6 separate regions of the Homo sapiens genome follow, and regions 1, 3, 4, 5 and 6 are each reported to be linked to region 2. The links are microRNA targets in miRTarBase. Many come from high-throughput screens and were not tested one by one. Region 2 holds a microRNA gene; each other region holds the end of a gene's coding sequence.
Evidence for each region. Region 2 holds the annotated microRNA hsa-miR-3135b (GGCUGGAGCGAGUGCAGUGGUG, at 2,342-2,363, shown strand). A microRNA usually pairs through its seed, bases 2 to 8, with sites in the 3' UTR of a target mRNA and lowers its output. Matches are read on the target gene's strand: a 7mer-m8 pairs with bases 2 to 8, a 7mer-A1 pairs with bases 2 to 7 and ends in A, and an 8mer does both.

Region 1 (4,813 bases), not on the chromosome of region 2:
CCTCTTTTGCCTCCCAAAGTGTTGGCATTACAGGCATAAACCACTGCGCCCGGCCTCCTTAAATATAATTACTATAATTTCTTTCTTTTTTTTTTTTTTTTTTGAGATGGAGTCTTGCTCTTGTTGCCCAGGCTGGAGTGCAATGGACCGATCTCAGCTCACCACAACCTCTGCCTCTTTCTTAATCAAGCGATTTTCCTGCCTCAGCCTCCCTAGTAGCTGGGATTACAGGCATGAACCACCACGCCCAGCTAATTTTGTATATTTAGTAGAGATGGGGTTTCTTCATGTTGGTCAGGCTGGTCTCGAACTCCCAACCTCATGTGATTCGCCCTCCACTCAGCCTCCCAAAGTGCTGGGATTACAGGCGTGAGCCACCGCGCCCAGCCATATAATTTCTAAACTGGTCTTCCTGCCACCGGTTTCTTCTACCCCATTTCCATCTACTATAGTAAATACATAATACATTTGATCACTGCCTTCTTCTTAAATCCTTTTACAGTTTGCTATAGATCAGCATGTTTTAAAAACATTTGTATTTGAGTACCTTTAGTTGGGACTGCGCTGTCCAGTCTTCACTGTTCCCATTACCTTACATAGCTGGGATGTCACCTATCTTATCTGCTAGGACCTTCAGACACTTAAGATTATCCACTAGATCAATGTTTTTCAAACTTCCAGACACACACCCCATTAGTGGATGTGAAACTGAATTAGTAAATCACAAGGAAATTTGAAAAATGCAAACCAAAACTGTGGGAAAGAAAACAGGAATTAAAGGCCAGGCGAGGTGGCTCATGCCTGTAATCCCAGCACTTTGGGATGCCGAGATGGGCGGATCACCTGAGGTCAGGAGTTCGAGACCAGCCTGGCCAATATGGTGAAACCCCATCTCTACTAAAAATACAAAAAAAATTAGCCAGGCATGGCGGCGGACACCTGTAATCCCAGCTACTCGGAAGGATGAGGCAGAATTGCTTGAACCCGGGAGGCGGAGGTTGCAGTGAGCTGAGATCAAGTCACCGCACTCCAGCCTGGGTGACAGAACAAGACTCTGTCTCCAAAAAAAAAAAAAAAAAAAAGAAAACAGGAATTAAGAGTACATAGCACATATTGTCTTGTGAAACTTGTTTTATGTATTGTTTAATGAATCATGGTATAAAATTATTCTTACTGATCATTATAAACATTTTTTGAGGAATACTCCTCAGACCCTAAGGTTTACAAAGTTCAAATGTTAGATAAGATTCTAATTATATTCCTCTAGTATCTTTCCAACTGTGATCCTTAGTCTTTTTCCTCATCTATAAAACGGGAATAACAGCAGTCTCTATCTTACTGAGTTGTGAAGATTAAGGAAGCACTTAAATAAGGGATTAAGGGGCTTAGGGTAGTGCCTGGCATAAGGCAAGTGACGTTATCTTTGTGGGCTATTTTCCAACTCACTCCTATCCCCATTCCTAAACATGCTATGTTCTTCCTGACCTCCATGCCATTTGTATGTGCACAGGGAAAATCCACTTAAGACTTTTCTGGTGATTTCTCCAGAAATCCTTTCCAATTTGTCCATTCTGGTGCAGATGCCTCGTTATGTCCCCAAAGCAACTTGTGCTTCCATTTATTATATAGCACCTATACACTATACCATTTTCCTTTCTCCTTCACTAGATTGAGTCCTCTTATGAAATGGGTAATTTCATTCATTTAGCATCCCCAGTACCTAACCTGACAAATACCAAGTATCAAAGTGTTCAACTGAGTGATGCTGTTTTTTTCCCTTTCCCAACAGTTGTTAGCCCTGAAGATCTGGCTACCCCAATAGGAAGGCTGAAGGTTTCCCTTCAAGCAGCTGCTGTCCTCCATGCTATTTACAAGGAGATGACTGAAGATTTGTTTTCATGAAGGAACAAGTGCTATTCCAATCTAAAAGTCTCTGAGGGAACCATAGTAAAAAGTCTCTTATAAAGTTAGCTTGCTATAACATGAATTTGGTTTACTGTGATGTCTAGTGTCTCTCAATCTAATGATGAAAGTTTAGAATGATGAAAGTTTCATTTGTAAAACTAGCTAGCTAAAGGCATTTTTCTCCAGTACCTTAGCACTTTACCAGGCAGGAAGCAGGCTTGCTTTCAAGAACTGAAAATGAACGGTCACAGGTGAATTTACAAAAACAAACAACAAAAAAAACCCAGTTTATTCATCTTTTAGTTCTTCCAAAATTGAAAATATCAAGTCCTACTGCTAAGGAGAAAAAACAAACAAACATAAAATCCGGGACCCCTCCCCCCTTCTTCTCTTAAAGTCACAGAGCACGGAAGGAACTGCAGTGGGACAGGTGGGTGCAGAGAACCAGAAGGGGAGGATGGCAAGATAAACTCCCCAAATACTTGAAAAGCTGTTCAACAGAAACTGTGATAAATACAGGACAATGCAAGACAAAGTTAAAATAAGGAGCAGCAGTGCCGAGAGGCTGTGTTGTAGATATGGCCTCCCTTCCTCTTCTCTTTTCTCATCAGGGTATTCTAGGCCCAAGGCATGACTTGTCCCTTCCAGATATAAATGTTGACTCCTTTGAGCCTTCCTCTACATTTCACTAGAAGCGGTACATGAGGCACAACCTGATATATCTTCCTTAGATATATGAGAAAAAAAAGAAGACAGTGGCAATTTTGCCTTCTATCATTGTACCATGTGTGCATTGTATGGAGAAAATAACCGAGCCAGGGAGTATCACTGCTTCTTATGTCTTCCAAGGCAGCAGATATACCTCAGAATCTGCACGAGGCAGGAAAGCAGGAAAACTCAGACGAAGGCACCAGCCCAATCTGCCTCACTGGCTCAAGCTGTATGGTTTATCACAACCATTAGCAAATTTCCGAGAACCTTGAGTATTGCAAAGATAAAACTTAGAGATGTGCGGAAGGTCATGGCAGTAGGGTAGGTTGGAGGATTGAATGTGCTGGTCAAGAACCATGATACGGGTAATTAAGGGTCACCTTGTACCACTGTCTTGGAAATACAGCTTTGAGACACCAAATAAGATGTCAGAAGCCATCAATGTCTTGGCAGAAGGTGACAGGAAGAGAGAAGAATGAAACAATATTTATTAACAGCGGGAGCCTCCTCCTGTCTTCAAGAACACCTCCTCCCTTGCCATCTGAATGGGGCCATTGGCACGTGTCCTGGTGGGCCTGGAATTCCCCGAGTAGATTGGTCCACACAAATGGCCCCCTAAACCCATAAACACAAATGGCAAAACTTCAAATGAAAACGAAAGGAAAAATACAGTTTCTATGTCATGTAAAATTTTCAGGGGTTGGCTGGAGGAAGAATGGAGCTCAGGGCCAAAGTTCAGAAGTTACTTCCTCTTTTTCTTGGGGGGTGCAGAGCTGTGTCTGGAACCACGGTTAGAGCCACGGCCCGAACTGTGCACAGATGCCTTCCTCTTCCGGCTCATACTTCGACTTTGTTCTTCTTCTTCCTCGTAACGACTTTCTCGGTCCGCTAAATAGAAGAGGCATTATTAGTTAGCAATAGGTAAGCTTTAGGTACCTAATATTACTGGATAGCATGAGATAGTACAGAGAATACACTTTGGAATCAGACCCAAGTTTTAATATTGGGCAAGTACTTTCTGAACCTTGGTTTATTTACAAAAGGGAGAATTATTTAAGGGTTAAATAAGGTAACCTATGAAAACTACCTATTCCCAATGCTTGGAACACAGCAGTTAATATTTATTTCCTTTTAAGCTTTAAAACGTTTGTTTGGGGTTTGGCTTCAGAGTAACTAGATTAGCATTATAAAGACATGCCTAACCTGGAAGAAGCCTAGAAAATTAAAGTATTATAGGATTTAGGTTTGGAAACTGAGTAGGCTAATTCTTGAGTATTACATGAATATGTGGCTATCATGGCTATAGGAAAGATGGGGGCTTGCGCAGATGAAAACAGCATCCAGTTTGGCAGAGCACTGCCCACTGGAGAGTATGGACACATTCCACACCTCATTTTCTCCTTCAGTCAATGAAGTTGTATCTGTGGCTCCAAAGCACTTTTATAGTGTTCTTTTGTTACTTTCATTACGCCATCAATACTAACACCTCAAAATATTGAAATGTGTTAGAAATTTGTGCGTAGACAAATGAATAAAAAACAACACATTTTTAAAAACCTTTTCGGGCTTCTTCCTCCAGTTCATCCCAATCCTTTCCACTCTCTTCTTCACTACCCAATGACTCCTTAGAATAGTCTGGAAGAAAATTAATTAAGCGTTAGTCATCATGCGGGAACAGAATGGAACGACAGAGTTCTTAGTCTAAAAAAAGTAGTTTTCAGAAATGACATTAGATTAGGAAGCCAGGACGAACTTTGCTCTGTAAGACTAACCTGACTCTTCTGCTTCTGATGAATAATCTTCATCACTGTCCTCCTCTTCCTCTTCATAGTCATCTTCTGAAGGATTAAAAGTCTCATCTTCAATTTCAGACTCTGAATCCCCTTCTTCAGCATCACTCCCCTGGTGAGTTAGAGCATAATACTGATTTTTTTTTGACATTTACCTTATTAACTTAATGAATTAATTCAGCCCACATAGTATACCAGTATTTACATGAAGAAAACAAGAGCAAAATAATCTGAGGGATCAAGAGATAAAATGACTTGTTTAAAATTAGTGGTCAGGTGCAATTATTATTTTACTATTATTATGTATTATTACATTTCTGAAAAATTCACGTTAGCCTTCCTCACCCAGGGAAATTAACAACAGAAAGACTTTCTGTATTTACGTATCACACAAACGTTAAGTGGAT
Region 2 (5,000 bases):
TGAAAATATTGACATTCTGCTGTAGCAATAAGATTCCTTGGGCTTTGCTCACAGATTAATTCTAAATTTGAAAAAAAAAAGTTTATCACTTTCTAAATATCACTTATGTAGTCAGGTATTCTTTGCTTGCCAAGAAACTGCTGTAGTAGGATCCGTTTTCAGTGAGATCCTGGGTTAGACCCAGTTTCCTGGATTCCTTACCTTCCTATATCCTGATTAACAATCTCAATTGGTCATATCCTTAGTCAATTTCTAGTAAAACTCTGCGTGGTAGGTAAATTTTATGTTCTTTCACATTCACAGGTATTTTTATTCTTTCTCCATGCCTGATTGTGACTTTGAAAAGATCTACATTTATTAATAAAAAATAATTTTCCTTTAGAACTTCAAGGACTTTCTCATTATCTTAATAATAGAAGTATTTTTTTTGTTGTCAGTTTGTTTCATTTTGGTTTCCGCCACTGGAATATTTTATGACTTTTCTATAACACCTGAAGTTCTGAAATTTTGAAAATGAGATATTTAGAAGTGAGTCTGTTAATTTTGCTAAATACCTGACAAGACTATTCCATGGAAGAATTAAATCCTTTATATCTGGAACATTTTCCCTTATTATTTGTTCTGATCATTTTCTCCCTTCATCTTCCCTGTTGGTCTCTCTAGCTTTGTCACTTGATGTTTGACTTCCTTGGTCTGTTCTCCATCTTATTTTTTCTACCATATATTACATTTTTTTTTTGCCTTTTAAATTACTGTGAGATTTTCTTGATTTAATTTTCCAATCTTTCTATTAAATTTTCCAATTGTTTTTAGCATTCTATTATTACTTTTACAGATCAAGAATTCTAATTAGAATGACTTTAAACTTGTTTGCTGTTACATGAACTTTCTCTATTAAATCTGTGATAATTTTCATGTTATTTTATTCTCATCTTCTCTTTCATATTGTAAGAGTTTCTCAAACATTTGCTCTGGCCTCTTCAACCTTGTCCTTTACCTACTGTATACCACCTTATTTCATCTCAAGATACATTTCTTCAAGCCACTTCTAAACTGCCCCAAACCATACCTGGTCCCTGTGCAACACTCTCTCATTTTACCTCATTCTTTTTCTTTATAAATGTTTCAGACCTTGTAACTATGTTTGTGGAATTATGTAATATATGTATTTTCCTCCCACTGGAGTGTAAGTTCTATGAAGATAATGAATGTAATTGTTTTCACATTATTTTAATAACATTCAACAAACTATGAGTACTTATTGTAGCACTGGTACTCAATGACCATTTTTGCATTTTTGATGAATTAGTGAATATATAAACAAGTCTGGGGGCTTAGTCCAGCCAATAATAAAGCAAGCATTACTTTGCTTTCCTTTGTTATTATTAGTTCCTGCATACACATTCTTTATAGTTGCATTCCTGAGAGGTTCTTACAGTCTTGGGCAGGCCTTGGACAGGGTTTCCTAAATGTGATAAAAATGAGAAAAACTGAAAAACTAACATAACTTCAAACAGAATGCTTGTCTGCCTATGTTTATGGGACTTTCCTGAATACATTTAAAAAAAAAACCTTTGTATTACAGAAAATTTCAACTGTGTGCAATAGTACAGAGAAGAATTCCATGTATCAACAGCCTTGCTTTAACAATAATCAATTCATGAGCAATTTTGTAAACCCACCCAGTTATCATACAGGCACATACTGGATTATTTTGAAGATATTTTTAGGTATCATATTTCATTTATACATTTTTATTATGAAAATCTAAAATATAATGGCTTTTTAGAAACATAACAGCAATGCCACTAACACATTTAAAACGAGATAAATAATTCCTTAATACACTCAGTGTCAATTTTTCTGATTGCCTCATATAAATTTTTTAACAGATGTTTTGTTTGAATATGAATCTAGACAAAGCTCAGCGTTTGGTTACTATATTTCTTCAGTCTTTTTCAAGTGTATAGCTTTTCTTTTCTCTATTTTTAACTTTTTTTGCAAATTGTTTGCTGGAGAAATCTTTTTATTTAATCTAGTAGAACTTCTCATATTCTGAATTTTGTTGCTTACATCCTTGTGGTGTCATTCATCATGGGATTTTGTCTTGGACTCCAGAAAATAACAATAACACAAATTTGTTAACTTCTATAAACTGCTTACTATGGGCCAGACTGTGTGTGAAGTGCTTTATTTGTAATGTTTAATTCTTCATATCTCTAGTTTGTATGTGGTAAGTACAAACCTGAAATATTTTACGTGATTTTTACGTTTTGTAATTTTTATTTATTTATTCATTTATTTATTTATTTTTAGAGACGGGGTCTCGCTGTGTTGCCCAGGCTGGAGCGAGTGCAGTGGTGCAGTCAGTCCTAGCTCACTGCAGCCTCGAACTCCTGGGCTCAAGCAGCAATCCTCCTGCCTCAGCCTCCCTACTAGCTGGGACTACAGACTGGTCTCCATCTCCTGGGCTTTAAGGGACCCTCACCTTGTGCTGAGATTACAGGCATGAACCATTGTGACTGGAAATTTTGTAAAATTTAAACAATGTGATATTACCTATTAATGAAGTCATACTTTATGTATGTAATCTGAAATAATTCAGATAACAATTTTTAAGAATCATTTAATTTAAAATCATGCAGCCTGATTTATAACTGTTTATAATAATAATATAATAATATAATAATGATGATTTCACTTTGAACTTTTAGCTGATAAAAAGATATATTTGCTCTATTTTATAAAACTAATTTTAGCTATGCTATTTTAACATTATATAAATACTTTTTGAATACATTCTTTCAGTAAAATCCAACTACCATTATATTTGCTTTCCTCAGTATTTCTTGGGGAAGGATTCTAAATAGGGGAGCATTTGTGTATTTCTGTATGACTCTGGTTATAATGCCATTCAATGTAAGCCTTACACACACACACACACACACACACACACACACACACACACAAATGCACACACCTCCAGAATGCTGGGTTCTTGGCTCATGAATCATTGAAATTTATATAAAATTTATTTTAAATCCTATTGCAGAAAAGTTCTTAGCACATTCATGCATTTTCATGTGACCATTTTTATACTACAGTTTTAATTTTATATATTTGGGATCATTATTGTTGACCTTTTCTTTTCTTTTTTTTTAATAGAGTTTATTTTAGAGAAGTTTTAGGTTCCCAGAAAAATTGTAGAGTACAGATAGATGTATCCCATATGCTCTCTGTTCCCACACATGCATAGCCTCCCCCACTAGTAACATCCTTCATGACAGAGGTACATTTGCTACAACTTATGAACTTACACTGACACATCATTATCACCCAAAGTCCATAGTTTATATTAAGGTTCATTCTTGGTGTTGTACATTCTATGGATTTGGGCAAGCGCATAATGATATTTATTCACCATTGTGGTATCAAATAGAGTAGTTTCATTGCCCTAAAAATCCTCTGTGTTCTGTGATGGACGTTTTCATGATCACCACTGGTTCAGATTCCCTGCACTTACTAATTCCCAGTCTGCATTTATAATTATTTTCTCCCGGAGTCTCCCCACCTCCTCCCCAAAGTAAATATGGATAAACTGCTGTTGCATATAATTCACCTTGACTTAAAATTTATGGGACATAAGGAGGGAATATACCCCTTAGAGAGTTAAAAACCGAAGTCAAATATTACAACTTCTTGTCCTAAGAGTTCTCTTAGCAACCCAATCTCAGCCTCTCAAGAAAGAAAAAAATCCTCCAGTTAACATATGAAAAGAAACTCACTTTTACGTCTACGCTTGAATCTCCTAAATCACTAAAGGGCTAAGGAAAACAAATGTACTTTTCATATAATATGATCCATTCTTTTTAATAAATCCATTATAAACATAACTGCAGTGTTTTCTTATATATTTATATACTACGTGTAAGGCACTGTCTATATACCAAGATTATTCAAATTCTGTCAATAACTCTGCAAGGAAAATATTATCACTCCCACATTGTGGATGAGAAAAATAAGGTTCAGAAATGTCAATCAGATACTTTACCCAGTAAAGTTTAAAATACTAGCTTCAAAATACTGAGTCAAGTATTTGGATTTAGGTTTCTTTGTACAAAACTATGCTGTATCAATTATTATGTTAATGTTTTGTCTCTTTTTTTTCTCCTATTACATTTTAAACTCACTGATGCAGATAGCATGGACAGAAATATCCTGGCAGATTTCATAGCTGTTTAGAGCTCTCAGGTCCCTGTGGACCCATTTCCTCTGAGAGATTTTCTATTAGGAGACCACGAATCCAGTGTAGGACACAGCACCCACTACTGCTGCTACATTGTCTCAACTGTCTTGTTCTTCCTAGGATTTCTCTCTCATAGGCTCATGCTTTCCTTAGCCAGGAAGGGGGAGGAGCAGGGGGCTGGGGCCCCTAAATGGGTCTGTAGCTTCTACTTCTATCTGTTTTCCATTGTCACTAACCCTAAGTAAGGAACAAGCATTTGTTCCTTTTCAGATACCCCCTTATATTATTGCCTTATTTTAATATTTTTCTTTTTTAAAAAATTTATTTATATGTATTTATTTATTTTTGAGATGGAGTTTCATTCTGTTGCCCAGGCTGGAGTGCAGTGGCACAATCTTATTGCAACCTCCACCTCCCAGGTTCAAGCGATTTTCCTGCTTCAGCCTCCTGAGTAGCTGGGATTACAGGTGCCCAGCACCATGCCCAGCTAATTTTTGTATTTTTAGTAGAGACAGGGTGTAACCACGTTGGCCAGGCTGGTCTCGAAGTCCTGACCACAAGTGATCTGCCCACTTTGGCCTCCCAAAGTGTTGGGATTATAGGTGTGAGCCACCGTGCCTGGCCTTATTTCAATGTTTTTCTAACTGGCTTCCATTTCTTTTCCTGCCTAGAGAATTTTTATCTCCTCAAGGTGAGAAGGGGAGAGGAAAGCTTCTACTGTTGTCATTCTTCACAAATTTAAAGTTTTGAGAAT
Region 3 (5,000 bases), not on the chromosome of region 2:
AGAAAATGACACAGTAGCCCAATCGTCTACTTTTGTGATTGCTAAGAATTTGTGTAATTATACCTTCAGAAGTTTGTTTAGAATTTACATGATTTAAAAAAAATTACGTGTGAGAGTAATTATTTTAAAATGCACATTTTAGGCTTGAAGTAGAACATGTGATGATGAGAAAAATTATTAAAAAACAGGATGACCAAATTGAGCGGCTTGAGAAAATCCTGCAGCATTCAAGTTTGGTAAGCTGATCTCTTAATTTCTGTCATACTGAAAAGGAATTTTATTTTTCCAGTAGGATGGGTTAAATATCCCTTGTCCAAAATGCTTGGGACCAAAAGTAGATTTTTTTCAGATTTTGGAATATTTGTATATACCTAATGAAATATCTTGCGGATGGTACCTGAGTCTAAACATGAAATTCATTTGTGTTTCATATATACCTTATGCACATAGCCTGAAGGTAATTCTCTACAATGTTTTACAGTAATTTTTTGCAGGTAAGAAAGTTTTTACTGTTTTCCCCAGAGCCTGTCACATGAGGTCAGGTGTGGAACGTTGCAGTTGTGGTGTCATGTCCGTGCTCAAAAAGTTTCAGATTGTAGAGCATTTTGGATTTCAGATTTTTAGATTAGGGATGATCAATCTACAGTACAGATGCTCCTTGACTTACAGTGGGTTTACATGATAATGTCTCTTGTTTGACTGAAACATTATAAGTAATATTTGATTTATTTCAGATGCTGCAGGTGTTTGAGAGCTAGATGAAGGTATGTTGCCAAAATTTATGAATTAAATTCAAATCATTGATTTCTGAAATAAACTCTAAGTAGTGAACGGTATTCCCTCTCAATTGCTTGGTTAATAAATGCTACATTAAATATTTTTTCTTACACACATCTAGTGAAAGATGTGAAAACATAAACATTCATAGTGAAGGGTATACTTATGCTTTGTTAATTCATCATGTTTCATAGCTTTAAAAAAATCGCAAGAAATCTGTGTATCCCTTTTTTTCTGGCCCTACACTTTTCTTCTGCCACCCCTATAGACTATCAGCCTGCACACTGAAACTGTTCTCACAAAACAAAGGCATTATCAACTTCTCAAGGTTAAGGTAGTGATTTAAGGCTAACAGACCCCACACTCATGTGATAATAATTAGTTAAGCAATTACAGGTCACAAGCAGTCACTTGACCAGTGACATTTTAAATCTCTAGTCATTGACTTTGTCATTGGTTTACTTTTGCCCCTGGGAAAAGTTGAAAATTCCTTAGCATGGAATCAAAACTCTCACATCAGTGTGGTTCTTGTCAAGTTATTCAGCCTTATCTTTCGCCACTTACCATACTCTACACCTTTGTTCTAGCATCCAGCCAAACTAGACTACATGGAGCTCCACAGTGATCGTCTTCACCTCCAGCTGTTTGCATTTACTTCTTCCCTCTATCCTACATGTGTTTTCCTTCCCCTTCAGATATCAACCTATGAATTGCCTCTACCAAAAAGCCTACAATATTGACACAAACCTGGGCTAGTATCCCTTCTATGTCTTCCAATAAGTGCTGTCTTATGCTTGTCATTGTATGTATGACTCTGTATGGGAATTGCCTGTTTGTTTTTTCAGATTATAGCATACAGTTGTTGAGGGGCGGACCGTATCATCTTTATCTTGTAATTCCAGTGCTTGTCCTAGTACCTTAGCACATGGTTGCTGAATACATGAACGAAGAGTGAGAAACCAGAAGCTCTGATACTTAACTGCCATGATAATGAATTCGGTGTGCAACTATGGGCAAATTATATTTAATAGTAATTGCATATTGTACATATTTTTCATTCTTATTAACACTGATAAGCTTTTCAGCATATACTGACTTTCTCTTAGTTAACTGTGAAATCATTTAGATAAAGAATATAATTCTTTTTCATTCTAACTTCTGAATTTAAATCTGAATCCTCTATAGCAGGGGTCCCCAACTCCCAGGCCACACACAGTTCCATGACCTGTTAGGAAGCAGGCTGCACAGCAGGAGGTGAGTGGCAGGCAAGCGAGTGAAGCTTCATCTGTATTTCCAGCCACTCCCTGTTGCTCACATTATCACCTGAGCTCTGCCTCCTGTCAGATCAGCAAAGCCATTAGATTCTCACAGGAGTGAAAATCCTACTGTGAACTGCTCGTTCAAGGGATCTAGGTCACATGCTCCTTATGAGACTCTAATGCCTGATGATATGTCATTGTCTCCTATCTCTTCACGATGGGACCATCTAGTTACAGAAAAACAAGCTCAGGACTCCCATTGATTCTCCATTATGATGAGTTGTGTAATTATTTCATTATGTATTACAATGTAGTCATAATAGGAATAAAGTGCACAATAGATGTAATACGCTTGAATCACCATCCTGAAACCATCCCCCAAACCCCCATCTGTGGAAAAATTATCTTTCACAAAACTGCTGCCTGGTGCCAAAAAGGCTGGGGACTGCTGCTCTATAGCTTCTGCACTAGAATCTACTAATGAGTAAAATTTAAATCAATAACTAGTTTTAAAAGCATAACAAGAATATGTGCTGTCTGGCTGCAGTGGCTCATGCCTGTATTCTCAGCACTTTGGGAGGCCAGTGCAGGTGGATCACTTGAGGTCAGGAGTTCAAGACCAGCCTGGCCAATATGGTGAAATCCTGTCTCTACTAAAAATACAAAAATTAGCTGGGTGTGGTGGTGCATGCCTGTAGTCTCAGCTACTCGGGAGGCTGAGGTGGGAGAATCACTTGAACCCGGGAGGCAGAGGTTTCAGTGAGCCAAGATCGTGCCACTGCACTCCAGCCTGAGCAACAGAGTGACTCCATCTCAAATGCAAAACAAAACAGAAAGAATACATGCTGACGAAAAAAATCTAAGACAATAAAATTGTATTACTAGGCTGTTAACATGATATTTTGTTTCCCGTTAAATGTGTGACATGCAAAAGTATTTATTAAATGAAAATATTTTTTATCTTTTATGTCTGATGAAAATTTATATCGTGTTTTAAATGATGTTTCTTGGCCTCTTTAACTTTTTATTTTTTTATTATTTTTTTTTTGAGACGGAGTCTGGCTCTGTCACCCAGGCTGCAGTGCAGTGGCGAGATCTTGGCTCACTGCAAGCTCCGCCTTCTGGGTTCACGCGGTTCTCCTGCCTCAACCTCCCGAGTAGCTGCGACTACAGGTGCCCAGCTAGTTTTTTTTTGTATTTTTAGTAGAGATGGAGTTTCTCCCTGTTAGCCAGGATGGTCTCCATCTCCTGACCTTGTGATCTGCCCACCTCGGCCACCCAAAGTGCTGGGATTACAGGTGTGAGCCACTGCACCGAGCCTGAAAATCTTACTACCTAAATAACTTCCCACTCCACTCACACCCACAATCTTTCTATAATCCACATTCTCTCCTGAGACAAGAGCTTGGGAAGTTCCGTCTTGCTGAGGGAACTTTATATTGTTCAGGAATTCTTTAATAAGGTTTTACATAGTTGGGGAAACCAGGGAAAAGCAGGTTTGTCACTGCTTTGCTGAGGAGCAGACTCACGTGCCTTGGAAGAATTTAGTAAACCTTCAATAGATGGCCTAAGATACTAACAGGGGCCATCTCATTAAGCTACACAGTTATTTATAAATGAAAGTATAATCTAGAACTTACATGTCAAAGTCTTCCACTAGAAAGATGGCAATATTTGACTAAAACTGCAAAGTTTGTCCCAGTTGACAAAACTCTAATCAAGCCCCTGCCCTTCTCATTCTGTTTTTCCTTTTAAACTTTTTCTTATATTTTAATTTTTCATTTGACAAATGCATATTTCCTCTTTATACCATGCTTCCAAGTGTCACTCTGATACATACCTTCAATGAGCAGACACAGGATTGTGGAGTTTGTTGTGGACACTCATCCCATGAATAGGGAGACTCCGATAACCTGAACAGACGGCTCTAGAAAAGAAAGGAAACTTTCTTTTCCTTCCATACAGAGCTTCCCCCCATTATTTCAGTGTACACAAACCAACATCAGTTCTTTAACACAAAAATAAAAATACTCAAGATCAAGCAATTGTGAGGGGAATCATCTTTCCAGAAGTCAATTCTTCTAGCGGCTACCTTCAGCATATACAACTTGAATAAAAAGAAGTTGGTCAAACGAGTAAAACTTTCCCACCTCATTCCAGTTCTATCTACCCATTGACAACACCTTCGGTCTTCTCACAAATATTGAGTAGAAACACTGCCAACTCTTCACCTTTATCTGGCTCATTCCCAGAGCCAGGAGAAGATGTGACTTATTTGGTGGATGGGAAATCTTATCCATTGGTCCCATCAAATCCATTGGTCCACGTTTGCCTATTAGTAAGGCAAACTTACTCAGTGATCAATGAGTACATCTAGTCTCTCTTTCTCCTCTGGATTCTGAACAGGAGACTTGGAAGGCAGGTGAAGACCCTCCCTGCACTGGGTGGGTAACTGACTGTTCTTCAGATGAACTTTTTTTTGTTCAGGTTCTAAAGTCAAGGCTAGGGGGCAATATTAGAAGTCTTTTTTGGTCAACATTAAGCCATAGTTTCTAAATCAGCTTTAGGAGGAATAATGTATTTGGATATTGATCTGACCTTTTGTTTTTATTTCTAAGTTGGTTTGGCACTGAAAAAGGAGAGGTTTGTTATCAGTCCACACCCCTAATGCCCTGACATCCATGAATCCGTTTTAGTGGAATCCAGATCTCTAAGAAAGAGATATAAAATATTTGTTCCTATCCAACTGTGATTACTGTATTTCCAACTATGTTGCTGTCGGTAAGTAGAGTCTGCATACATGTTTCTGGTTCATATATGCCTAGGGTTCCAGAGCATTACATTTCCATCAAAATGTAGATCCCGAGAATGCCAGAGAGGGTCAGGCCGAGGATAGAACAGACAGTGATTTTCAGATACTGCAGTAGGAAGGTGGATCCATGTCTTGGCTGGTACTTGTAACCA
Region 4 (5,000 bases), not on the chromosome of region 2:
TTCTTATGTTTGCCTGCTCTGACATTTTACCCTTCCATGTCATTGAGCACTGAGGATCCTAACATACTAATTTTATAGTATTATCTAGGTAGTTCATTACTTTCATTTTCTCTTGAGTGACTGATTGCCTTTCTTGGGATTAGTTTTTCTTCAAGTACTTTTGAATTTTGATCTGCAGGCTCAGCTTTCATGGGAGCCTTCCTGCTCTTTACCTCTCCCTTCCTAATCTCCACTCCTTTCCTTTTGTAATTGCTTCTACCACCTGTTCAAACTGAGGGCTCCAGATCTATGGTGATAGTGGAACTATCACAGATCTACAAAGATCTATGTAAACAGAGGAGTAGGCTGTTTGAGAAGATCTGTCTACAATATATAGTCCCTGGCACTGGTTGTTGTTGCTTCTCAGTTTCAAGAGTGAGGAAACTCCATTCAAGACCCTGGTTTCATTACTTTGCAGGAGCTGACATTTCTGGCTACTTCGGCCTGCTTCCAGACCTGTAGCCCAGCTTCTGGCTTACAAATTCATTACACTTATCAGTTTGTTATTTCTGGTACCTGGAAATGTCTATACTGCTTTTGAACACAGCTATGCTTAAAATTTTCTCATTTTCTATTCAGAGCTCCAGAAATATACTTACCTAGGTACTCCATAGGCTAACATTTAAACACTATGTGAAAGAGAAAAAGATGGCTTTTTGGACAACATAAAGTTCTATGCCATGCACCATTCATTGGTAATAATCTTAAGTGAACAACAGAGTTTTGATGAATGAACTAAGATCTGTGTATTCTTCTGGATTAATAGCACACAGCAGATCAGCAGCACTGTTCTGCCTTCTGCTCATTTTTATTCACTCCCTAAAGTTAATGACATCAAAGGAAGAATAACATTGGGTCTGTTTACAAAATGTGTTGCCTATATAAAATATGTCCCATAAAACACCTTCAGATCCAGTCAGTTTAATATAAAATGTTTTTAATTGTTTTTGAAAACATTTAAAAAACAATTTTTGAGCACTTTAATAAAAAAAGAGAACTGAAATGCTACCGCAATATTCAACTACTGTAGTTTCAGCAGGTACAACAGACAACAAAACACTGGGGAAATCTGACTTTTTGCACTAAATGAAACATGAAACAGGGCTTGTTTTTGTCATTTATCGTGTAGTAAAGCACATTATAGTACAAGACTATTATATGAACCTCAGAAGCACTGCACAAAAAAACACTTTCCTTCTTTTCAGTTCAAAAGTCAGTGCTTATTGCAATTATATGCAAAATTATTTACTTCATGAAGTTTTATGATAAACAGTATGCAAAATGTTTTAAACATCAAAACAATAAAAATAATCTGGAACAGAACATATTCAACAATAACTAAGCAGAATTAGTAAACATAAAGTAAATAACCTGTGAATAACTATGCTTGCCTGGTTAACACTGAACCAGTTTCAATACAGCGAAGAAAAAAAAGAGTGGTTACAGGAATCCTAGTACTGTACAAGATAAGTCAATAACACTCATGCACATTTTGTGATCATGTATTAACATGGTGAAGCAAACTAAACTTAATTCTTCCTGCTGTAATATTCTCATGTAAGAGAATAATAGAAATATCTCATTGAGATCAATGCACATTGCTACATAAGACAATTTTATCTGTCACTTTGATGACATTTTGTCTTTTCATAATGAAACACATTTAAAAAGTTTAATCTGTGGACTGTATTGGTTGCATTTATCCTAAGAGATGTGCCTACCACAGGTTCAACAAATTTAGTGCAATATATGAACCCCAGAAAGTTTGCTGGACGAATTCAACCAAATTTAAAGAGTTTGCTGCAATACTGTACAAGGGGTTAAAAATCCTCCAGTCTTAATATTTTTATCAAAAAAGATTTCCATTATTTTTATATTAGTAGGAAGCTAATAATGTAAACAAGGGATTAGAATGGCCTCAAAATCTCCTTTTCAGAGTATCTCATAAAGAAAGGCTCCCATCATTTGTCAGGAGAAATCACACAGTTTCCTTTGGGTATTGCATACTTTGGTGTGCAGTAGTGCTGTGTCTCAATGTACAGTGAAGAAATAACTAGCATCAAGAAAAAAATACCTAACAAATCATGAAATCAAGATAACAGCAAACACACACAAATGCCAATAACTAAGACATATCAATATATAAACCTCTGCGCCAACTCTAGCACCATTTATTTATCAAAATATGTTAATACCCTACCTTGCAAATTTATTGAACAACAAAACCTTATTAAACCCTTCAGCACATTTGCTAAATATTCATTGATTGTAGTCTTCTGATTGGCTTACTAAGGTAAAGGAAAGCTTAGCTAGGTTCAAGGTAGCATAGCAAATGGTTTTATGTTAGCTTTAAAAACAATGGCAATTTAAAAATCTCTTTGAAAGTGATCTTGAAACTCACTTAAATGGAGCTTTCAACCAGTGAGTAGGTTTGTGTCAACATGCAACTCATAAATAATTATTCACAAAACAAAATGGGAGCCATAGAGAGAAACATTTTAAAACAAATCCTGAGTTCTTCTTTTGCAATTGTGGTTATCACAATAAATAAATTAAGCAAGTAATAAAATGCTCTTCTTCTTCAAGTACTATTGATATCCCCTTTGTTTCATCAGAGATATAAAGATTTGTGGCTTCAGACCTTAGGTGGTGAAATGTTTTTTGTTGTTTTTTATGTTATCCTCCTTCCTGTTTTTCAAAGGGATCCTATGATCAAACTACATTACTATATTCAGGAGGAGTGAGGGAGTCAGTCACTCAATTGAAGAGGAAAAAAACTGATTATTGTGGAATATTTTAATGAAAAATTTCAAAGTAAATCTCAGTTAGAATCTCAATATGTACATGCAGCCATTGTGATGAAACTAAGAGAATGCTTTTGTTTTCCTTCTCATTCCCCTAACTTAACAAATAATAAGACATAAAGCATTTTTCTAACATGCTTGTATTTATTATATTAAATTACAAATGCCTGGAGTTACATTTGCTTGTTTTGTGTGTGCGTGCCTGCGCATCTATGTGTGCTAGCTCCATATTAAAATCAACATTTAAATATTAATGCAAGGTCACAAATATAAATGGCTACTTGTTTTTTTTCCCTTAAAAATTTTAGTGCAGCTTTGCTTTCCTTAAAGTAATATTTAATTTTCCATTATTTTCTATTTAAGCCCTTCATCGTGGGTGTAAATGGTACTGAAGCCCCAGAAAGTCCTACAGAGATTTTTCACCCTACAGTAGCTCTATGCTTCAAGCCTAAATATTTATAATAACCTGAATATTATCCCTGTTTCAAGGAAGACTTTCTTGTCTACAGTTCACCCTAGCTATGATTTTATATCTAAAAGATAATGCCAACAACAAAACAGCCTATACCTAAAATTGATGGTTTATTCTGAGTTCTGTGCAGATCATCTGATGAAATGAAACTAACTTACACAAAATAAAGATCGACTGCTCTTGTAACAGCTGGATAGTCAATCAATGTGAATAAATGGGGCACATTATAAAATTTAAAACCTAATACTTGTTCTTCTACAGCCTACTGTCTTTAGACACTTGTTAAGAACTGAGGCAAGTCTAACCATTTCCTACTGAAGAAACCACTTCTGCAGCAAACGCTTTTAAAATGTCACAATTAATAGTATTTCTGCTGCGGGAGGCACTTCCATTAAGACAAATACAATACATATGTCTTTAGATACAGTGTGCTACATGTTATAAAACACAATTTAACCCAACATTTCAACAGTAGGATGGTCCTTGCTTTCTATCCATTCAAAACCTGATGAAGTCATAGAATTCATGGATTCACTGCAAATTTGTTGAAATAATGGGTCATTCTTTAATTCTTCCAGTGTAGCTTCATCATCTTGTCCCTGCTGACGACCTGGATCAAACAGTAGATTTGGGTCTAAAGTGTTCAAATCATTGATGCTGCCTGAGAGCTCAGAAGACAACCTGATATCGCTAGAGAAATCAGATGCAGTATTAGTGAGATCAGATGCTCCCTGACCTACCAGCTGCTGGTTGGTTTGCAAGCTGTCTCCACTCAACAGGTCTTTAACAGTGCTATTGAAATCTAATTGTTGCTCTCCAATTTCTGATTGTGCTTGATTATCTCCAGGAGAAAAATTGATCTGACCGGTGCTATTACTTTTGGTGAGGTAAGATGGTGTTTGGAACTCATAAACAGAAGTGCTGGAATCGATCATATTTTGTGGGTTGGCACTAGGAAAAACAGTGGAAGGTTCCAAAATCTGAGTGAGATTCATCCGGGCTGTATAATTAGAGGGCAGGTTGTTCATTCCCAAACCTCTCACTGCATCATCATTGTCGGAATCAAGTTTACTCAACAAAACATTGGTTATTTTTTTACTGTTTGCTTGCTTCTGAAGAGCGTTTGGGAAGGCTGTCTGCATCATGACTGTCAATGGAACTGATTGGCTTCTTTGAGCTATGTTGTTGGCACATGCGTCTGTGTGAACATTTGTGAAAACATGAACTTCTGGGGTAACTGGACTTCCAAAGGGGGTCACATTAGATCGTGGGATATTAGATACTGGATAGAGGGTGCTTCCACTAAGATTACGTTGGCGATGAACAGCAGGGCTCACACTCCGGCATCTGAAGTTGCTGCTGGCAGATGAATTAGTTCCTTTATTATCAAGAGGGGCAGGGACTGCAAAACCCTCCTGTTTGTTGGTGTTATTTACAGTGGCACCTTGATGCTGCACAGGAGAGACAGGAGTCAAACGACCAAAATGAGTGTCATGATGTCTGGATTGAGACTGATAAGACTGTCCAGGCACAGCAAAAGCATGAGGTTTCCTGAAACGGTCTTCCACTAGTTCCTGATAGCTTGGGAGAATACCATGGCCAGAAACTGATGAATTACCAACCCCACTATACCCATTATTCATCCATTCAAGCTTGGTTTTGTCAGGGTGTGTGGCCATGGGTCT
Region 5 (5,000 bases), not on the chromosome of region 2:
GCACTATCATAGCTCACTGTAACCTTGAACTCCTGGCCTCAAGGGATCCTCCCACCTCAGCCTCCCAAAGTGCTGGGCGTGAGCCACTGCACCTGGCCTTCCTTCGGTACCTTTAAGTAATAAAAAGTTACATATATAGCAGAAAGTCCCTATGTATTCCTTGCCAGTATTCTCATTGATTTGGTATGAATTTTTTACGTAATATTTATTTGGTGGAAGGAACTTAGAGGAAAATAAAAACCACCAACCTAATAGGAGAATGGCAGGCAGGCAAAAACGGAGGGATAGAAGGTCATTACAGAGAAAGTGGACAAAGAAAAGGTTCTCATAAATAAAAACACCAGGTGCTGTACTTTCTCTCCTAAAGCTAGCCTTTGCTGTTTCCTGTCTCATAAGGGTTTACCTCCAAGAGATGCTGTTTCTGAAAAAGAAAAAAAATCAACTATCATTATGCCTTACACAAAAACTCAATTGCTATGGCTTTTAATTTCAAATACAAGCAAACAAAATATTCACTTTTAACTGAAATTACGCATTTAAGCCAGACCTGTCAGTTAAGAAAATTAATGACCACCATAACATAGCATAATATATGCTAAGTACAGCTGTTTATACTCCCCTTCACAAATATAACATATAGTTGTTTGCACTCTCCTTATATATAAAAGATATCTGACATTAACTTGTGTGTTGAAACATCACCTGAGCAACAGATTACAGAGGGTTTTATGTTCATATCACCACAGCACTTCTGTTTTAGCAATTTTACAATTAAATTGCTAACAATTAAATTTCTCCAGATGATGAAATACATGTGTTTGTCTTTTATTTTATTTTTTTGAGACAGGGTCTCACTCTGTTGCCCAAGCTGGAGTGCAGTGGTGCCATCTCGGCTCACTGCAACCTTCGGCTCCTGGGTTCAAGCAATTCTCCTGCCTCAGCCTCCCCAGTAGCTGGGACTACAGGTGCACGCCACCTCACCTGGCTAATTCTATATTTTTTTTGGTAGAGACAAAGTTTCACCATGTTGGCCAGGATGGTCTCAAACTCCTGGGCCTCATGTGACCTGCCCTCCTCAGCCTCCCAAAAGTGCTGGGATTACAGGCCTGAGCCACCATGCCCAGCCAAAATACATTTTTACACCCATTCTATCTCAAAGAATAATTTAAAGGAGTAAATATTCAGCTCTATTTTCACCACAATGAAGTAATGCTTAAGCAATCATGTACATTATTTTTTCCTAATAATGTAACCCTCTAGTTTCATGCCCTATGTAACTGATCTGATCTAAAAGGATACTGTACACGTAGCAGCTCAGGGAAGTTGACACAACTGTTTTAAGTCGTAAGACCTAGTGTTTCAGCCTGTATGTGATTTTGGACAGTCATGTAACCCTCTCTGAGCCTCAGCTTCCTTAACTGTAAAATGGGTCCTACTTTCTTTTCAAGGGCATTGTGAAGATTAAGTATGTGAGTAGATGTAAAAATGCTTTGTAAATACGTACTACCCAAACACAAGGTATTGCACTGTATTCAAATGTAAATAAAATATCTATTTATTCCCACAGTCAGGAAAAATCCAGTTCAACTACTATGCTTTAAATCAAGTTTTCTTTTGAAAGCTACTAAGCCCTGTCTTAAATCTATCAAGAAACAATGAAATTTCACTTTAAGTTTTATGTGTAAGCACACTCAATATCCTTAGGAAAAATGCCTGTTACACAGATAAGAAGAACATACAGGCCAACCAACTTGGTTAAAAATGTAATGACTTGGTGGCCGGGCGCAGTGGCTCACGCCTGTAATCCCAGCACTTTGGGAGGCCGAGGAGGGCAGATCACGAGGTCAGGAGATCGAGACCATCCTGGCTAACACGGTGAAACCCTGTCTCTACTAAAAATACAAAAAGATTAGCTGGGTGTGGTGGCGGGCACCTATAGTCCCAGCTACTTGGGAAGCTGAGGCAGGAGAATGGCATGAACCCGGGAGGCGGAGGTTGTAGTGAGCTGAGATAGCGCCACTGCACTCCAGCCTGGACAACAGAGCGAGACTGTCTCAAAAAAAAATAAAAATAAAAAATAAAAAAAAAATATATATATATATAGTGACTTGATACTAGGACTAAATTCCAGAAATCCATGTCATTGCATGTTCCTTGATCTATGAAATTAAAATCACCATTAAGTTTAAGATTAGCCGGGTGTGGCAGTGTGCGCCTGTAGTCCCAGCTACTTGGGAGGCTGATGTGGGAGAATTGCGTGAACCTGGGAGGTGGAGCTTGCAGTGAGCCGAGATCACGCCATTGCACTCCAGCCTGGGTGACAGAGCAAGACTCCGTCTCCAAAAAAAAAAAAAAAAAAGATTAAAAGATTTTAAGCTTAAACATACAAAACAGTCAGTATTAAGACAATGTATTAGAAAGGACTGAAAGTTGTAATAACCCAAAATTTGTAAAAGGAAACATGAGAGTCAAGATAGTTGATCTTGCATTAATTACATTTAGCTTATAATTCAATTGACCTTTCTTAAAACGCAAAGAAACGGTCTATTACCACATGAAAGATATGTTTTAACACAGTTGGCAGTTGGTTCCTACTTGAGAGTTACTACACCCATAAAAGATTCATGAAGAGTATTATAGCCACCTCTTGAACTATTTCCAAACAGTTTAATATAAATTTGTTAACCAACAAAAGTGCACATATTAAGTAAATCAAAGTTCCTTTGCTTTTGGCTGGAACTGTAACAACTCAAAGTGGTGAGGAGAGACAACTTTATTCTGAGATTAGAGGTTGTTTTTTTTTTTGTTTTGTTTTGTTTTGTTTTTGAGACAAACTCTCACTCTGTCACCCAGGCTGGAGTATAATAGCAGTCTTGGCTCACTGCAACCGCCGCCTCCTGGATTCAAGCGATTCTCCTGTCTCAGCCTCCCAAGTAGCTGGGTTAACAGGTGTGCACCACCATGCCCAGCTAATTTTGTATTTTAAGTAGAGGCAGTGTTTCGCCATCTTGGCCAGGCTGACTTCGAACGCCTGGGCTCAGGTGATCTGCCCGCCTCAGCCTCCCAAAGTGCTGGGATTACAGGCGTGAGCCACCACCCCCAGCCCTGATCAGAAGTTCTAATTGGCTCTTAATCAAAAATTTATTTCTGAGAACCATCTTACAACAAAGGATCCCAGACATTTAAAATATGGGGGTGGGGTGGGGAGGAACACTGGTTTAAAACTCACCAGTATGTTCTTTAGACACTAGAATCACCACAGCCAAAAGCAGGGAGTATGTTTTGTTTTTAAATGAAAAATACCCTCAGTGCAGCCCACTTTCCGTTCTTGGCCCTTTAGATCCACTTTCCGTTCTTGGCCCTTTAGATACCCCTCGCAAAAAGTGCTAAACATATTTACAGCAATGTGCATAAGTGAGCTCTGAGTTAATTTCAGATCTAGACAAAAAATCTGAGGCTAAGCTTTATGTCACAACAAGTTTTACAAGTCCCTCCACATATCAATAACATAGGCATTCACAGAACCAAACAACAGTAAGGAAAGGCTATTACAACTGGAATACCCCTGGGGGTTCAGTTCCATTAGCAGTAGCAAAGGAAAACGATCAGATAAACCTACAAAAACAGCAGAAGCATTATGACCAAACCTCAGGTCATTAAATCACGAAAGTACAGCCTTACAATAGGTTTCACTCCATTAGCTCTATCCTGCCAATATGCCTGAAGATGTCCTATTGGTGATCACAGAAGAGGCGAAAACATACGATTTAACTTACTTAACTTTTTAACAGTTTTTTCATTTCAATAAATTTATTTTGATTGGTTGAATTGTTTAAGAGGAAGAGAAGAATATGTTCATGTTTTTCAACCTGTGGGTGAAAAAGAAACCATATGATTTAATTTCTAAAAACGTTAGGAGTATAATTTCACTTAAAGGAAATTTTACCTACTTGTTTCTGTAACTCTGTGCAGCAGCAATTCATCCTATACATCTTTTCTAAAAGCACAAGAAAAATAAGCCATTAGATAACACATAATGTAAAGAAGAAAAACTTGGGAGTGTAAACATATACAGATAGCTCTCCCCCTTGCGCATGGGTTCCGACTACAAAGACCTGGATGGATCCATTTGGGCTTTGAGATTATCTACTACCATGGTCTGGATTTGACCACATTAACAACCCATGTCTCCAAGGTTTTGGTTGTCAATCATCTCTCTTTTTGATTGAGGCCAGGTCTGTCAAATATACATCTTATGAAGTACCAGGAAGATGGAATCTCAAAAATATGACTTCTCAGTTTGATCAGGATAGAAAGTAAATTGGAAATAAGAAGCACGCAGAATGCCTGGCATTTTCAAAGCTCTTGGTGTCAATTCCCACAGCAGTGCTGACAAGTCTGATCTAAGGACTATCTGGACTCGGAGGACTGCCTCCATCAAGGCGGCCCTCCCAGGCAGCCACAGGAATCAGAACCCTGCCACTGGATTTGTGGAGGAGGAGGAGAGAGTATGGCATGGGAAGTGAGAAAAGGTCAAGTCAACTAAATTGATTATCTGTTATTCCTCACACTTAACATCTGTTATTAATAACACTTGAAAAGAATACCTGTATTTAAAGCACTCTGCCTTTGAGGTGTGATGTTTTTTGCCAGACCAAATGTCACTAGCTTATCAGCTACATCGACAGTCCCATTCTCAGAACATTTCTCAACTGACACTGTATGGACATTCTTTGTAATTCCTTTCACAGAAAGCATTACATTCTGATTCAACATGAAATTTTTTAATAGCATTATTATTAATTGAGAAGAGCTTCCATTCAATTCCATTAATCCTGGAAAAAATAGATATTATAGTCTTTTAGTCCCTTTTAAAAAGACAGAATTTAGATAAATTATCTAAGAATAATAAGCAAAAGGCTTACTGGACTTCAGCTGGATTTAGGTGTGTTCTGATGTACTACTGCTGTTGCATTACAAAAGACAAATTTATTCAATAC
Region 6 (5,000 bases), not on the chromosome of region 2:
AAGCGTGGGTGGGGAGCCTGTCAGGCCCAGGCTTGAGTCTTGGCTCCGTCAACCTCTTGTTGCATGACTTTGGGAATGCAGCGCCCCCCGCTCTGAGACCTGGGTTCGAATCCTATATGGGCACCAACGTTGTGTGACCTTGGGCAAGTCGCTACCCCTCTCTGGGCCTCTTTCTCATAAGATGGAGATAGAGACGGTTCTGCCTTATCAAGTTGCAGAGGATGAAATGAGTTAATTCTCGTAAAGTGATTAAGATATGGTAAATGCCCCATAGGTCTTAGCTGTTATTAGGATTGCTTTCGCCCAGTCTAGAAGGCAGGGGTGATAGATGCACACAGTTTATTTAGAGCTAAAATGAGGCCAGGTGTGTGCTCCAACCTATAATCCCAGCACTTTGGGAGACTCAAGCGAGAAGATCGCTTGAGCCCAGGAGTTGGAGGCTGCAGTGACCTATGGTAACGCGACTGCACTCCAGCCTGGGCGACACAGCAAGACCTTGTCTCTAAGGAAGAAAAAGGCTAAAATGAGTTAATTGATGTGACTAGCTTAGGGCAGGCCCAGGCACAAATACCAGAATCCTCAGCCTCACAATCTAGTCTTTGGGTTCCGTAGAAAAGCGCTGGCTTTGGCCTGAAACCCAGGTCTGAATCCCAGGCAGGCCCTCGGTCGCTGTGCGGCTGCTTCACTATGCCCCTCCTTTCCCTGTCTGTAAAATGGGGCATGCGTGCTCAAGAATGGGCCTGATCTTGACAGGCCTGGGCTGAGCCCTGACTTTTCTCCCTCAGGGCAGAGACACCTGCGGAAGCCACAGGGAAGCCACAGAGAGATGAAGCCGGCCCACAGAGGCAGCTGCCAGCCCTTGATGGCAGCTTGATGGGGCCGGAGAGTCCCCCAGCACAGGAAGAGGAAGCCCCTGTATCACCCCACAAGAAGCCAGCCCCCCAGAAGCGGAGGAGGGCCAAGAAGGCACGGCTGCTGGGCCCCACTGTGATGCTTGGTGGATGCGAGTTCAGCCGCCAGAGACTGCAGGCCTTTGGCCTCAACCCCAAACGGCTGCACTTCCGCCAGCTGGGCCGGCAGCGGAGGAAACAACAGGGGCCCAAGAACAGCTCCTGAGCACCAGGGAGCAGGCAGGGGCCTCAGGCTCCTCTCCTCAAATCAAGCCCTGGACAGGTCTCGCACCCACAAGTACTATCTGCTGCAGAGATCCTCTCATCTGTGGCCAGGCACGCCTGTAATCCCAGCACTTTGGGAGGCCGAGGTGAAAGGATCACTTGAGCCCAGGAATTGGAGACCAGCGTGGGCAACTTAGCGAGACTCCATCTCTACAAAATGTGGTGACACATGCCTGTAGTCCCAGCTACTCAGGAGGCTGGGGAAGGAAGATCACTTAAGGCCATGAGTTTGAGGCTACAGAGAGCTATGATTGCACCACTGCACTCCAGCCTGGGCAACAAAGCAAGACCCTGTCTCTTGAAAAAAAAAAAAAAATTAAAAAACACGTGTAGCTGTGGGTAAGGAAGTCGTCCCATTTTATGGATGTGGAAACTGAGGCTGACTTAAACTTCCCGTGACTTGGAGCTCTCACCTCGAGACACCTCCCAGACCCCACATCCCCTCAGAACGCTGCGCCCAGCCACACCCACGATCAAGTTACACAGCTTTATTGGCCCCCAGCAGCCACAGTTCCCCCAAGGGGGCTTTGGGACAGGGAGGGCCCGGGCGTCCAGTGCAAACTACAGTACGTGAGTCAGGCCCTGAGGGGGGTGCCCGGGGTCCTCCTTCCCTACCCTGCCAGGAGGGCCCCGCTGGTGGGAGACAGGTGTATGGGCTCTGTGGGCTCTGTCCCTGGCTGAATGGCCCCAGACTGGTTGCAGCTGGGCTTGAGGGGCTGACAACAGGAAGTACCATCATCACTGCCAGAGCTCAAGATCCCACACCCGACATGACATAAATAAAAAAATAAATAGTGTTGTATCTTTCCCCTCATCCCCTCCCTTTATAAAAACACAAAGTCCTCAGAGCTGGGGCGTTTGGCCCTGAGGAGCCGCCCTGTGCGAGGGAGCCGGAGTGTGGGCTGGGCGAGCTGGGAGCAGAGGTCGTCCAGGCTGTGGTCCTGAGCATGGCCCTCGGCCAGGGTGAACATGGGGTACCGCTCTGTGGCTGAGGAGGAGCTGAGGACCTGGCGGGAAGAGGGAGACAGGGTCAGCCACAAACAGTGCCAAGCCATATTCCTTAGCCCAGGTTTATTTAGTAGGTGCTTCTCAGGACCACCTCTCCAGGAGAGAGCAGCCAATCAGCACCTTCCATCCCCTGGCCACAGTGATTGGCTCAGCCATGAGCATGTGACCCAGCTCAGCCAAAGACTGACAGTCCTGGGATTTTTGCTGCAAAACCTGCGTTTCCCTTCCAGTGACCACAGGGTGGGTGCCCAGAATGGCTGGTGGCCATCTCTCGCCCCCATAAGGGTAGAGTCCTGGTCGGACAGCAGGGCCAAGAGACAGGGAGGGTTCCCACCACTTGAGCCCCTGGATACAGCTGCCTCCAAGGGATGATGCCTTAACAGTGGGCTTTGGCGTTCCCACCTTTTCAGGGGTGGACATTCTTCACATTTCCCAGGTTAGGACCCCTAGCCTGGAAGCAGCACCCCAGCTCTGCTGGACTCGAGGCCTCTGTTCCTCTTTCACCCCCAGCCCTGCCCAACCGCCCCCCTCACCCCACTCCAGCTTTCCTCTTGCTCACCCTGGTCAGCTCTGAGCAGAGTGTCTCAAACTCCTTCCTGTCTCCAGCATAGAAGCCCACGGTACAGCTTGGGTCCATCTTGGCAAAGGCCATCTTGCGGGGCGAGGTGCAGTGGAAGGACTGGGGCAGACAGACGAGGAAGGCTCAGAGGCTGGGCTGCCCACCCGCCATGGCCCCAACCACACACTGGGGCTCCCACTCACCTCCAGGGGGAAGTCGGCCTGGCTGACATCCACAGTGGGCTGGCAGTAGTGAGGGTCCAGGTACAGCAGGAAGTCATCTGCAGGGGGTGCAGGTGTGAGTGGGGGTGCGGTGGGGGGTGGGAGGAGTGAGGAGGGGGTGGGCCTACCTTGGTAGCCAATGAAGTACAGTGAGTGTCGCGGTTTCCCACCCATGATGCCCAGGCACAGCTCGCAACGCAGGAGTTCCTGCAGGGAGGAGGGTAGGCAGGTGCTGTCAGGCAGCCACTCAACAAACGCTTGGCAAACACCTCCTCTGTGAGAACCCAGCCTCTGGAGGGCAGCAGTGATCAAGACCACAAAACCCTTGCCCTCAGGAGCTGACATCCTAGTGTGAGAGACTAACAAGGAAGATGATTACATGAATTTTTTTTTTTTTTTTTTTTTTGAGACGGAGTCTCACTCTGTCACCCAGCCTGGAGTGCAGTGGCCCAATTGGCTCACCGCAACCTCCGCCTCCTAAGTTCAAGCGATTCTCCTGCCTCAGCTTCTCAAGTAGCTGGGATTACAGGCACCCGCCACCACACCCGGGTTAATTTTTTGTATTTTTAGTAAAAATGGGGTTTCACCATGTTAGCCAGGCTGGTCTGGAACTCCTCCTAACCTCAGGTGATCTGCCCGTCTCGGCCTCCTAAAGTGCTGGGATTACAGGCTGGAGTGCAGTAGCACGATCTTGGCTCACCGAAACCTCCATCTCCTGGGTTCAAGCAGTTCTCCTGCCTCAGCCTCCCGAGCAGCTGGGATTACAGGCGCCCGCCACCACGCCCAGCTAATTTTTGTATTTTTAGTAGAGACGAGGTTTCACCATGTTGGCCAGACTGGTCTTGGACTCCTGACCTCAGGTGATCCACCTGCCTCCCAAAGTGCTGGGATTACAGGCGTGGGCCACCACGCCCAGCCAATTACATGATTTATCTCATGTGTTAGAGGTGATAACTATATGGAAAAGAATAAAAGAGGGAAGGGAGCCTTGTGATTTTAAGTAAAGAGGTCAAACATTACAGCTCTTTTAGAATTTGTCTCAGGTTTTCTGGTTCTCACTGGAAAACCCCCCACGCAAAAAATATTTTAAAACAGGAGCCAAGCAGTGGCTCATGTCCATAATCTCAGTACTTTGGGAGGCCGAAGCGGGAGGATCACGAGGTCAGGAGATCGAGACCATCCTGATTAACACAATGAAACCCCATCTCCATTAAAAATACAAAAATTAGCCAGGAGTGGTGGCGGACGCCTGTAGTCCCAGCTACTCGGGAGGCTGAGGCAGGAGAATGGCATGAACCCAGGAGGTGGAGCTTGCAGTGAGCTGAGATCATGCCACTGCACTCCAGCCTGAGTGACAGAGCAAGACTCCGTCTCAAAAAAAAAAAAAAAAAAAAAGCCACATGCATCACTGCTGAAAGAGTGCTCCAAGCAGCAGGGGCAGCAAGCGCAAAGGCCCTGAGGTGGGAGTGTCTGAAATAGGTGAGGAGGCCCCTGTGGCTGCAGCAGAGTGTGGGAGGAGGATATGAGGTCAAGGTGGGGGATATCCCGACATCAAGAAGGTGGTGTGGACAAATAGTGCCGGGCTCTGTGGGTCACTGGGAAAACTGGCTTTTATTCGGATGCAAATACATAGGGGACTTTCCAGCCTCAGGGTCTCTGTCTTGCTGTTCCTTTTGCCTGGAGCACTTCTCCTCTGGCTCCTCATTTGCCTGGTGGCTGCAGAGGCGCTTTTCTAGGCTCTGCTGCTACCCTCATCTGCCCTTCATTGGGTTACTGTTTTTTTAAAGTTGTGTAGAGGCTGGGTGCAGTGGCTCATGCCTGTAATCCCAACGCTTTGGGAGACCGAGGTGGGTGGATCACCTGAGGTCGGGAGTTCAAGACCAGCCTGGCCAACATGGGAAAACCCCATCTCTGCTAAAAATACAAAAATTAGCCGGGCGTGGTGGCATACACCTGTAATCCCAGCTACTTGGGTGGCTGAGGCAGGAAATTTGCTTGAACCTGGGAAGCGGAGGTTGCAGTGAGCCAAGACGGTGT

Region 1: the mRNA of SUPT16H is a reported target of hsa-miR-3135b. Seed matches in the 3' UTR shown: 7mer-m8 at 3,320-3,326.
Region 3: the mRNA of ANKRD36 is a reported target of hsa-miR-3135b. The part of its 3' UTR that is shown has no 7-base or 8-base seed match.
Region 4: miRTarBase lists RFX7 as a target of hsa-miR-3135b. Seed matches in the 3' UTR shown: 7mer-A1 at 1,806-1,812.
Region 5: the mRNA of TDRD1 is a reported target of hsa-miR-3135b. Seed matches in the 3' UTR shown: 7mer-m8 at 2,854-2,860 and 7mer-m8 at 868-874.
Region 6: miRTarBase lists KRI1 as a target of hsa-miR-3135b. Seed matches in the 3' UTR shown: 7mer-m8 at 1,440-1,446.

What each region holds. Positions count from the first base shown.
Region 1 is chr14:21,349,315-21,354,127 of GRCh38, forward strand. It overlaps SUPT16H (SPT16 homolog, facilitates chromatin remodeling subunit), which reads right to left. Exons shown (of 26, transcript NM_007192.4): 24 at 4,389-4,518; 25 at 4,174-4,251; 26 at 2,162-3,504. The coding sequence ends at 3,359. It overlaps RPGRIP1 (RPGR interacting protein 1), which reads left to right. Exons shown (of 25, transcript NM_020366.4): 25 at 1,790-1,987. The coding sequence ends at 1,902. Among named protein-coding and RNA genes, the nearest start is that of SUPT16H, 32 kb to the right of the region's middle. RefSeq lists a silencer at 1-37 and an enhancer at 2,670-3,869.
Region 2 is chr6:32,747,315-32,752,314 of GRCh38, reverse strand. It overlaps MIR3135B (microRNA 3135b), which reads left to right and starts at 2,336; the gene lies at 2,336-2,403.
Region 3 is chr2:97,249,410-97,254,409 of GRCh38, forward strand. ANKRD36 (ankyrin repeat domain 36) reads left to right here. Exons shown (of 76, transcript NM_001354587.1): 74 at 143-236; 75 at 735-764. The coding sequence ends at 758. Among named protein-coding and RNA genes, the nearest start is that of ANKRD36, 140 kb to the left of the region's middle.
Region 4 is chr15:56,089,578-56,094,577 of GRCh38, forward strand. RFX7 (regulatory factor X7) reads right to left here. Exons shown (of 10, transcript NM_022841.7): 10 at 1-5,000. The coding sequence ends at 3,768. Among named protein-coding and RNA genes, the nearest start is that of NEDD4, 98 kb to the left of the region's middle.
Region 5 is chr10:114,226,907-114,231,906 of GRCh38, reverse strand. It overlaps TDRD1 (tudor domain containing 1), which reads right to left. Exons shown (of 25, transcript NM_001395205.1): 23 at 4,608-4,835; 24 at 3,951-3,997; 25 at 1-3,869. The coding sequence ends at 3,777. Among named protein-coding and RNA genes, the nearest start is that of VWA2, 9.8 kb to the left of the region's middle.
Region 6 is chr19:10,550,067-10,555,066 of GRCh38, reverse strand. It overlaps KRI1 (KRI1 homolog), which reads left to right. Exons shown (of 19, transcript NM_023008.5): 19 at 786-1,982. The coding sequence ends at 1,116. ATG4D (autophagy related 4D cysteine peptidase) reads right to left here. Exons shown (of 10, transcript NM_032885.6): 7 at 3,092-3,170; 8 at 2,946-3,022; 9 at 2,743-2,862; 10 at 1,649-2,182. The coding sequence ends at 2,000. It overlaps MIR1238 (microRNA 1238), which reads right to left and starts at 2,945; the gene lies at 2,863-2,945. It also overlaps the pseudogene RNU7-140P. RefSeq lists enhancers at 638-717, 748-797, 818-987.